3 linked regions of the Homo sapiens genome follow. The protein of the gene in region 3 purifies or fractionates together with the protein of the main gene of each other region. This does not show direct contact. Each region holds a gene or a part of one and is shown on either strand. Other genes may lie near its edges.

What was found.
Region 1: the proteins of CDCA8 (region 3) and MYH4 purify together in Homo sapiens (affinity purification with mass spectrometry; 3 studies listed by BioGRID and IntAct, with this or other methods). This does not show direct contact.
Region 2: the proteins of CDCA8 (region 3) and DCLK1 purify together in Homo sapiens (affinity purification with mass spectrometry; 3 studies listed by BioGRID and IntAct, with this or other methods). This does not show direct contact.

The regions. Positions count from the first base shown.
Region 1 is NC_000017.11:10,442,778-10,445,700, reverse strand, and holds the end of MYH4 (myosin-4), read left to right. Parts: intron 1-338; coding exon 339-464; intron 465-554; coding exon 555-725; intron 726-801; coding exon 802-906; intron 907-1,001; coding exon 1,002-1,097; intron 1,098-2,173; coding exon 2,174-2,326; 3' UTR 2,327-2,411; downstream 2,412-2,923. UniProt on the Homo sapiens protein: Muscle contraction.
Region 2 is NC_000013.11:36,129,430-36,133,182, reverse strand, and holds the start of DCLK1 (serine/threonine-protein kinase DCLK1), read left to right. Parts: upstream 1-1,800; 5' UTR 1,801-2,069; intron 2,070-3,753.
Region 3 is NC_000001.11:37,702,363-37,706,115, reverse strand, and holds part of CDCA8 (borealin), read right to left. Parts: intron 2,865-3,753; coding exon 2,769-2,864; intron 676-2,768; coding exon 549-675; intron 1-548.

The sequences.
Region 1 (2,923 bases), on a different chromosome or scaffold from region 3:
TGAGTTAATAGCTAAAAATTACTGATTCATTTTAAATGAGCTGTGGTGTGGTGCTCCATGGTACAGCACTTTGAGTTTTGTGGGCTGTGTTTCATGCTTACAAATGGCAATGGTAATAGTTGAATATGTTTGACATCAAAAATTAAATTTAGAAGTTTGATTAAAGAGCTATATATAGAAAGGAGAAAAGGCATAAACTTAGAATTATCTTCTAATTTGGTTTTTATTCTAAACATTTCTTATGATCAATAATTTTTGCCTGTGTACACTAGGTAAAATGACAATGTGAGTTGTTATAAGTAAATGTGCTTCTCTTCTCTTTCATTAATTTGAAACAGAACACCAGCCTGATCAACACCAAGAAGAAGCTGGAAACAGACATTTCCCAAATCCAGGGAGAGATGGAGGACATCGTCCAGGAAGCCCGCAATGCAGAGGAGAAGGCCAAGAAGGCCATCACTGATGTAAGCAAGATGAGCATTTGTCTTACTGACACATGCATGCTGCCTGCTATCATCAGAATTCATTATTTTCAAAATTTATTTGCTAACTAGGCTGCCATGATGGCTGAGGAGCTGAAGAAGGAACAGGACACCAGCGCCCACCTGGAGCGGATGAAGAAGAACATGGAGCAGACCGTGAAGGATCTGCAGCTCCGTCTGGATGAGGCTGAGCAGCTGGCGCTGAAGGGTGGGAAGAAGCAGATCCAGAAACTGGAGGCCAGGGTAGGTCTCCACAACTTCACTCAATTCCTTGTGGCCAGTTACAGCCAAACTGGTAAACGTCTTTGTTCCCTTCCAGGTGAGAGAGCTTGAAAGTGAGGTGGAAAGTGAACAGAAGCACAATGTTGAGGCTGTCAAGGGTCTTCGCAAACATGAGAGAAGAGTGAAGGAACTCACTTACCAGGTGACCAGTGTTTTCATATCTTCCAGGCCTATAGTTTTCAAGAAAATCATGAGTTGTTTTAAAATAATGGCACCATCTACTTGCACCTCTTTCAGACTGAGGAGGACCGCAAGAATATTCTCAGGCTGCAGGACTTGGTGGACAAATTGCAAACCAAAGTCAAAGCTTACAAGAGACAAGCTGAAGAGGCTGTGAGTATCTCCACAGTGGAAATGAAAGGTTCAGATGCACATCCAGGTTTTTTGGGGCCTAAAGTTTATAGAATTTAGGGGGTTTTCTTTAAATTGGGAATACATAATTAGGTATGAACATGAATATTTAGAATGAGAAAAATGAACCATAAATTACTGGAGCCTTATAGATTTGAGTTTATTTCTTCTGAGACCTCTTTAAGCAATTTTCCAGACATGTTAACATACAAATGTTTCTTAGTTGCAATCCACTTCCCTCCCTATCTAGAACATTCTACAACCCCCAGCACTCATATGGACCTGTGCAAATGAGAGTATGAATTCTAAGCTTCATTTAACTTCATGATAAATCCATCTTGGGACTTTTTTTTTCAATTTGGCTGCAGTTATCTTTTTCATTCTGTTAATTCTGAAACCTTCCTTAGGGTTCTTGGCACCAAATGCCACTACTGCACCTATTTTTTAAAGTTTCTTTTTTAGAAACAAGATTGAATTCAGATCCCTGCTACTTTGTTCTTCCAGTTATCACTGCAGCCTCTTCAGTTTGCCAGAAAGAGAGTCAAGTGAGAGAGAGACTTGAGGAGGGTCATAAGCACATTCATTTACATAGGCGAGTTTGTGGGATGCCTTGCTCTCAAATAACTATGTTACTAAATAATAAAGCCTTTTTCTCTTCTTTTTTTTTTTTTCGAGGCAGAGTTTTGCTCTTGTTGCCCAGGCTGGAGTGCAATGGCACAATCTCAGCTCACTGCAATCTCTGCCTCCTGGGTCCAAGAGATTCTCCTGCCTCAGCCTCCTGAGTAGCTGGAATTACAGGCATCCACCACTACGCTGGGCTAATTTTAGTAAAGATGGGGGTTTCACCATGTTGGCCAGGCTGGTCTCGAATTCCTGACCTCAGGTGATCCACCCGCCTCAGTCTCCCAGAGTGCTGGGATTACAGGTGTGAGCCACCATGCCTGGACAACGGAGCCTTTTTCTTTCTCATTCATGAGGCAAATCCTGAAGTAACAAAAGCAATAACAATCAGGAAATGTCCAATTTTCTTGTTATCTCAAATGCATCTCTGTTCTCAGGAGGAACAATCCAATGTCAACCTTGCCAAGTTCCGCAAGCTCCAGCACGAGCTGGAGGAGGCCAAGGAACGGGCTGACATTGCTGAGTCCCAAGTCAACAAGCTGAGAGTGAAGAGTCGGGAGGTTCACACAAAAGTCATAAGTGAAGAGTAATTCATTCTAATGAAAGAAAATGTGACCAAAGAAATGCACGAAATGTGAAGTTCTTTGTCACTGTCCTGTATATCAAGGAAATAAAATCTTTAGATAATTTTGCATCTAAAAATACATTTGTCTCTTAATTATAAGCTCTTTAGTGCTATTAGAACTAATTCCTTTATTCAACATTTGTGGAGTTCCTAATATGTGCAATCAGAGATAATAACAAAAATGAATGTAGGCAGTGAACCCAACTTTAATGGAAGGTAAATGAAATAAGGTGCTCTGAGAAGACATGAAGGTGACAAACGCACTCTCAATTCCATTCAACCAATTTTACTGAGTATCAACTATATGTCTGGTACAGAAATGGACACGAAAGATGTGACAGTTATCCCTGTCTTTGAGAAGTTCAATCCAGTGTGGAAGACGGCAGTTCAAAAAGATATACGCTGTATGTATGTGCAACATACATACTCTGACATGAGTGTGAAAAACAAATGTGGCAATAACATAGAGTGAGCTGCTAACTTTGGAAATCCAGAAAGGCTTCTCAAAGGAGACTATGAGCTGATTCCTAAAAGAGGACCAGACAGTTATCAGGTGAAAGAG
Region 2 (3,753 bases), on a different chromosome or scaffold from region 3:
CAATAAGGAATTATTGTTGAATATAAATTAGATTTGCCAAATGCTTAAGCTGCCCTGGAATGAACTTTAGTACCAGCCTGCTGTCCTGGACTAAATGATATGACCATACTGTAGGGCCAATGTATACTATTTAATGTCTTCATCTACTTAATTATCAGTTGCCCCCTGGTTTCCTTAAAGAGCTAATGATGCCCAACTATTTCTAGTGAGAGCACTTTGCTACTGAGAGAGTCAAACACCAAGGTGATTCTCTGAACACATTATCTGTGTGTGCTAGGTACAACAGCTAGGAAGAGGTAAGATGATGGTGAGTTACTTAAAGCTCTTAAGAAATGACCCTAGTAGAATATCCATAGGGGTTAAGAGATGAAATTTATTTCTTGGCTTAGCATTTTGGAAGAAATCACTTGGCATTTGTCATTGGCAAGATAAAAAGAAGCTCTGATTTCTGTTCTCCAGAAGATGTACTTGGCTTCTTCCTTTCTCTTAATTTACCCCTATGGCTCTCATTTTGCCTCAGAATGTGAAAGAATAGGCTTACTACTTTGCATTTAGTTAATTTGGTGAGTTCACTGTACTCTCATCTCTGGGCTATTAAATAGTTCAAAAATAAATATCGCATCACTTGTGGAATATGTAGCATGGATCTCATTTGAGCTGTGTTTTAAAACAAATGGTAATTATTTAACATTTACATCATACTTGGAAAGTATTTCAGAATAGAACTTTTTAATAATAAGTAGTCAAACACATAACTGGGATCAATGGGCAAGAGAAAAATAAAATTTTAATGTTCCATTGAAAGGTGTAGGCTCAGGAAGAGAGAAAAATACTTATGTGTATTTTGTATACTCATGTGTATTTGGGACAAACACAGGTTGTGGACGACAGGATTGAAAGTCAGATTAACTGGATCAAAATTCAGGCTGCGTACTGAGCCAGTCTAAGATTTCACCGAAATCTGGGAGCTGCTCCCACTCCCTGGACTTTTGTGCAAAGACTGGAGGAAGCTGTGAACAGCCTGGGCTAGGAGAACATTCCCCCTCTGGGAGGAGAGGCTCGCATGAGCTCATGGGGCTTTCCACCGCAGACCCAGCCTTGGCAGCCACAAAGTGTCCAGCAGTGAAACCTGGCCCTTCAGTTCTCAAGGGCCCTTTGGAACATATTTGACTCTAAGCAGAGGTCACTATTCCAAGAGTGACTCATGTCTTGGGGTTAAGTGGAGATGATGGGTGGGATCCATGAACAGATCCAGCTCTTCCCAATGTGGGGGGCACCAGAGTGCATAGCTTGGGAGGGTTGGTCATCCGAAGAGGCACTGCGTGGGTGCATCCCGGGCAAAAAGGATGAGAAGGTGATCCACTGGCTTCCATACCCTGGGAAAGGTGTCAGACCGTGAGGTCACATCAAAAGGTATGAGTGTGGGTACCTCCTTCCCTCCCCCGACGGTGGGGGCCTCATCTCTCGGCCATATCACCTCTGTGCCTTGCACACTTCCTGGCTCAGACTCAGCCCTGTCCACGTTCTCTTCCACCATCTGATCTGCCCCCATCTCCCAAAGACTACTTGTGGGGACTAGGGAGGTTTAGGGGTGTAGTCAAGCCAGATGCACCGAGGTTGCTGCGGTGGGAAGAGGGCGCTGGGAGGGAGGAGGACCTGGGGCGCAGCCGTGGTGGGTGCGCCCTGCCAAGAAGGGCGGGGGCGACGGGGCGCGCACGCGGAGGAGGAGGAGGAGGAGGGAGACGGGAGGGCGTGTGAGCGAGTGAGACAAGAAAAGGGAGCGCGCCCGCCGCCGCCGCCGCCGCCGCCCTCCTCTGGAGAGAGAGGCTGGAGTGAGGCTGTGCGAAGCGCCGCATTTCAATGAGGACGGGCCGAGGCACATCCCTGCACTAGTGGCCGCAACCGAGGCGCCGCGCTCCAGCAGCTGCTGCCGCCCAGCCCGGCCCCGCCGCCGCCCCCCAGCCCTGCAGCCCCGCAGCCCCGGCCGCGCCCAGCCCGGCGAGGACAGCACCAGGAGGCGGCCCCCAGCGCGGCCACAAAGACCCCCGGCGGCGTCTCTCCGCGGACCGGTGCGTGGTTTGCCTTCCCTGGGGACGGGAGCTGCGGGGAGGGCGGCCGGGGGACTCCGCAGAGCCCGCTCCGCCCGCAGCCGCGGGGCGCCGAGGGCAGGGCGGGCGCTCAGCTTGGCCCCGCCGCCCCGCCCGCAGTTCCTCGAAAGGCGGCCGCCCTGCCCTGGCCAGCCTGGCCCGACCCGGGGGCGTTGCGTGCGGGCGGCCCCGGGGCTGCTGGCACCTGCCTCTTTTGTTTGGTGCCATGGGGCTTTAAACCTGGAGTCAGGCGAGCGGGCCCTCCCAGGCTTTTCGCGTTGTTAGTGGAGATGGAGAGCCAGGGCGGAGGAGCTGGGAGAGGTGCTTGTCATTGTCAGAACTGGCTGCGGAGCGGGAACCAAGGAAGGAGTGGCCGGGCCCGGCCTCTTATTGTGTGTGTGCTTTTCCGTGTGCCCGGGCCAGTGATGTGTGCTTGTGGATGGGGTCGATTCGTGCGTGGTGGTGGCTGCAGCGTGGGTGTTGCAAGTACGTTTGCAGGGTCTCAAGTTCCTTCAGGGACAGCGAGGCTGCCTCATGTTCAAATTAGTACCTGCAGTGCTAAAAGCTTGCGGAGAGGAAATGGCATTTTTTCCTCCTAGTGGGAGCGCACGCACAGCCCCGCAATGCCCCACAAAAGAGGCTGCTTTTGAAAACCAGGTTTGCGCGGAATTGCTCCTGGATTTGGCAAGGAGATGCTTGGTCGGTGAGAGAGAAGATGAAAGGTTTCATTCAAACCGGCTCCCTCTCTGCTGCACCTGTGAGTGTGTCCAGGCACGGTGCACACACGTTCAGCGACCACACTGCAGGCTGTTCCGTGAATACATTTTATGACTGTTCCTAAATATATTGCCTTTCAGTGGGAAAGGAAAGTAGGACAGCGTTTTAAGTATGAAATGTCACATGGATGCAGGTCAGAAGGGATTTTTTAAGAGAGGTCATATAGAGGAAAATTATAAAAGATATGCACACACCCTGTGATGTCTACGTCCGTGGTGGTGCACGGGCCTGGAAGGTATGTGTGCGTTTTATTTCATGCCAGTCCACCTGAATCCTAATCCCACGGTTAAAATATGCCTTGGGACTTCCAGGTCCAGCATCTATTTAGATGTGGTAGCATTTATGCCATTTTTTTCTTGGTATATATGTGTGTAAATTTCTGAAACAAGAACCATGTGCTCATCTAGAGAAGGATGAACATAGATTCCTCAAAATGGTGAGAAATCCCACCGAGAACAATCAGGGATGTTGGTTTCTTGAAATGGCAGGATTTATAGGAAAAGCTCTGATGAGAGCCAGTGGCCCTTCTTACCTCCAGTGTCTGTGGTCGCTGTGGCTGAGGTGCTGTGGTTACCATCCTGGTGCCACTGCACATGTGCACTCAGGCCCTTGGCCACCTATGGTCTCTGAACATTGAGCTGTGTGTTCTCGCAGCCTTCCTGTGCAGAAAGTGTAAACCTGTGGAAGGCCAGTGGATCTTCAGAAGCTCATGCATGGTTCAAATGTATGACTAAGCCAAGGTGAGGGAAAGAACACCTATTTTGTTGCCACGAATAATTACCAGCACACTAGGGTGTGGAGTGTGCTCCATTTAGAGGTAGCTGTAGCCTTGAAAATGATTTCACTCTGAGTATGGTTTCTTTTGTCGACACCATTGCCCACTTTTGGA
Region 3 (3,753 bases):
AAAAAAAAGGTGGGCACGGTGGCTCATGCCTGTAATCCCAGCACTTTGGGACGCCGAGGAGGGCGGATCACGAGGTCAAGCAATCGAGACCATCCTGGCCAACGTGGTGAAACCCCCATCTCTACCAAAAATACAAAAGTTAGCTGGGCATGATGGCGTGTGCCTGTAGTCCCAGCTACTCAGGAGGCTGAGGCAAGAGAATCGCTTGAACCCAGGAGGCAGAGGTTGCAGTGAGCCGAGATCGCACCACTGCACTCCCGCCTGGTGACAGAGCAAGACTCCATCTCAAAAAAAAAAAAAAAAAACCCACAAAAAACAAAAACAAAACCAAAAAACAGAAAAACAGAACCCAGAGCTGAGCAACGATCTTTGCAGTCTGGGCCTCTAACCTGGGAGAGAAAACTGGGTTCTGAGTCCCGCAGAAGTGTGGAGATCAGGACCCACGCACTGAAAGGACTCTGAGGGTGAAGCGTGGGTGAGGGCCCAGGGAAAAGAAATGCTTGACTAAGCAGCACACTGTGGCCTGGCTTCCCTTGGAAATACTTCACCTCTCCGCCGCCCACTGGCACAGTGAGGAAGATCTCTTTGCTGTCAGCAAGAGGGCTGCCATTCCCTGAGATGTTGTAAATCCGCTCTCCTGCTGCTGGAGTACGCAGGCCAGGGGTCTTGAAGACCCTAGAATGGGAAAATCTCTGTGAAGATAGCTTGGCAATTGGATGACACCAAACTCTATAGGCCATTTTAACCTTACTCTGGCCTCAAGTTGCAGTTTTTAAGTCATACATTCCTAAGAAAGCACGTTCTAAATTTAGAAAAAAAAAATGTTTTAAAGCAGTAATGACTAAACACAGCTGGAGAAAGAAGGTTGTAATTATTGAACATACATCTTACAAAAAGCCAACTCTTATCCACATAAAGTTTAGGTCCAAAGCTCCATATGGGTGCCATCATCCATCCATCCACAAAGCCAGAAATACGCTGGTTAATTGTTTCCAGGCGTGGCTGCTTCCATCAAGAGGAATTTTTCAGAGGCAAAGGAGGATGATTTAGATATTACATCATTATACTAATTTCTCAAGACAGTTAAAATACTGCTACCTAGTTTTCCCTAAATGCCTTTTGTTACATATTCATGTGAGAAAACAAACAGTAAAGAAAAGTGGGAACTGGCTGAGTGCCGTGGCTCATACCTGTAATCCCAGCACTTTGGGAGGCCGAGGGGGGTGGATCACCTGAGGTCAGGAGTTCGAGACCAGCCTGGCCAACATGGCAAAATCCTGTCTCTATTAAAAATACAAAACTTAGCTGGGCATGGTGGCATGTACCTATAATCTCAGCTACTCAGGAGGCTGAGGCAGGAGAATTGCTTGAACCTGAGAGGTGGAGGTTGCAGTGAGCCGAGATTGTGCCATTGCACTCCAGCCTGGGTGACAGAGCGAGACTCCGTCTCAAAAAAAAAAAAAAAAAAAAAAAAAAAAAGTGGCAATTAAAAGTAGAAAATAAATCTTCAACACTTCCCCACACCAGAGATAACCACTTCTTGCTCTCCTCCCCAGGGGTAACCACTCTGAATTCCTTATCTATCCTTCCAGAAACTTTGTATGTATATAAAACCAAATGGGATCATACAGCACAGTGTTCAGCAACCTGCTCGGAGATGCTCTGTGATCACGGTGCTCTTTCCCTGTCAGCACACACAGATCCAGTCTTTTTTAATGGCTATACAGCATCTCCTATTTGGTCAACTAGGTTCTTTGGAAGGTATTAACTTATGCTGCAAGAATATCCTCGCTTATGCCAGCCTCCAAAAAAGCAGTATCAATTTTTACTTCTACCAAGAGTACAGGAGAGTGCCTACTCATCTTTAAAAAACTGATTTGAGGCCGGGTGTGATGGCTCATGCTTGTAATCCCAGTACATTGGAAGGCCGAGGTGGGCAGATTGCTTGAGCTCAGGAGTTCGAGACCAGCCTGGGCAACCTGGCGAAATCCCATCGCTACAAAAAAACAAAAAATTAGCCAGGCATGGTGGCATGCTTGGGAGCTAAGGTGGGAGAAGCACTTGAGCCCGGGAAGTCAAGGTTGCAGTGAGCCGTGATTGTGCCACTGCTCTCCAGCCTGGGCATTGGAGTGAGACCCTGCCTCATAATAAATAAATATTTTAAAAATAAAATAAAAACCTTCTGATTTGAATCAGAAAAGGCCAAAAACGTCACCTAGAGGCCTCCTAGTCATCACAGGCAGAATATTCACCTCCCTCCCATTAAAGAATCATTTTGCCACTGAAGATAGGTGAAACTACACTTAAGGGAGAGGCATACACCAGGAAACCCAGCTGGCCACTGTCCTCTGACAAGGCATCCCAGGCCAAGGACTCGGGACTATTTTCTTTTCTTTTCTTAAGACAGAGTCTCACTCTGTTGCCCAGGCTGGAGTGCAGTGGTGCAATTGCAGCTCACTGCAACCTCCACCTCCTGGGTTCAAGCAATTCTCCTGTCTCAGCCTCCTGAGTAGCTGGGATTACAGGCGTGCACCACCACACCCAACTAATTTTTGTATTTTTAGTAGACGCAGCGTTTCATCATCTTGGCCAGGCTGGTCTTGAACTCCTGACCTCAAGTGATCCGCCTGCCTCGGCCTCTCAAAGTGCTGGTATTACAGGCGTGAGCTACCGTGCCTGGCCTAGGAGTATTTTCTTAGACACTCCTTCTCTGGGTAGTGCTCAATGTTGGAGTCCCATCAAATCCAAGTGTTTCCCTCGATACTCACCTTGAGTCAAACCTGGGTGTCAGGCCTGGAGTTGGTTTGACCATGGACACCTCCAATCGGCCCACGGCTGGGGTAACAGTGTTAGCACGGCTTGACCTACAGGTAAGAAATGGCCATCAGGTATGCCAACTCTCAGGTTCCACGAAGGCAGCAGCAGAGGAGTGACACGTGGAGAGCTGACTGTGAGATACTGCTCCGGGCGCCTCGCACACATCGACTCACGTGACCCTTCTAACACGGGAGGCCAGCACTGCTGCCATCCTCATACACAGATGCAGAAACTCAGGTGCATCAAGTTTTAAAAACTTGCCCAAGATCACATATCCAATTAGGATGGAGCCAAAACTTTGAACCAAAGTAGTCTGCCTCCAGAATCTGACTTTTTTTTTTTTTTTTGAGACGGAGTCTTGCTCTGTTGCCCAGGCTGGAGTGCAATGGCGTAATCTTGGCTCACTGCAACCTCCACCTCCTGGGTTCAAGCGATTCTCCTGCCTCAGCCTCCCGAGTAGCTGGAACTACAGGCATGCACCACCACACCTGGCTAATTTTTGTATTTTTAGTAGAGACAGGGTTTCACCATGTTGGCCAGGCGGGTCTCAAACTCCTGACCTCAAGTGATCCACCTGCCTTGGCCTCCCAAAGTGCTGGGATTACAGGTGTGAGACACCACACTCAGCCTCAGAATCTGACTTTTTAATCAAGGAGACAGCCTCTTCATGCGAAGGCTCCCCCAGCTGGAATTCTGTCCTTGTGCCAGGCAGCTGCTGCACTGCTCAAGAGAAATGAGTTCGCTCCTCCACAGACATGCATCCCGGTGACTACTCTCCTAAGCTGCTGTACCTTCCCCCACATGGCTTATGGTAGAGTCCAGTATAATCAACTCAAGCCCATAGAGGTTCTTCACTTTGCAGGACTGGACAAAACATTTCAAGAAACCAATTATAGGTAAGTGACAGCCACTCTATGACGAGCTATGGGGTAGCTC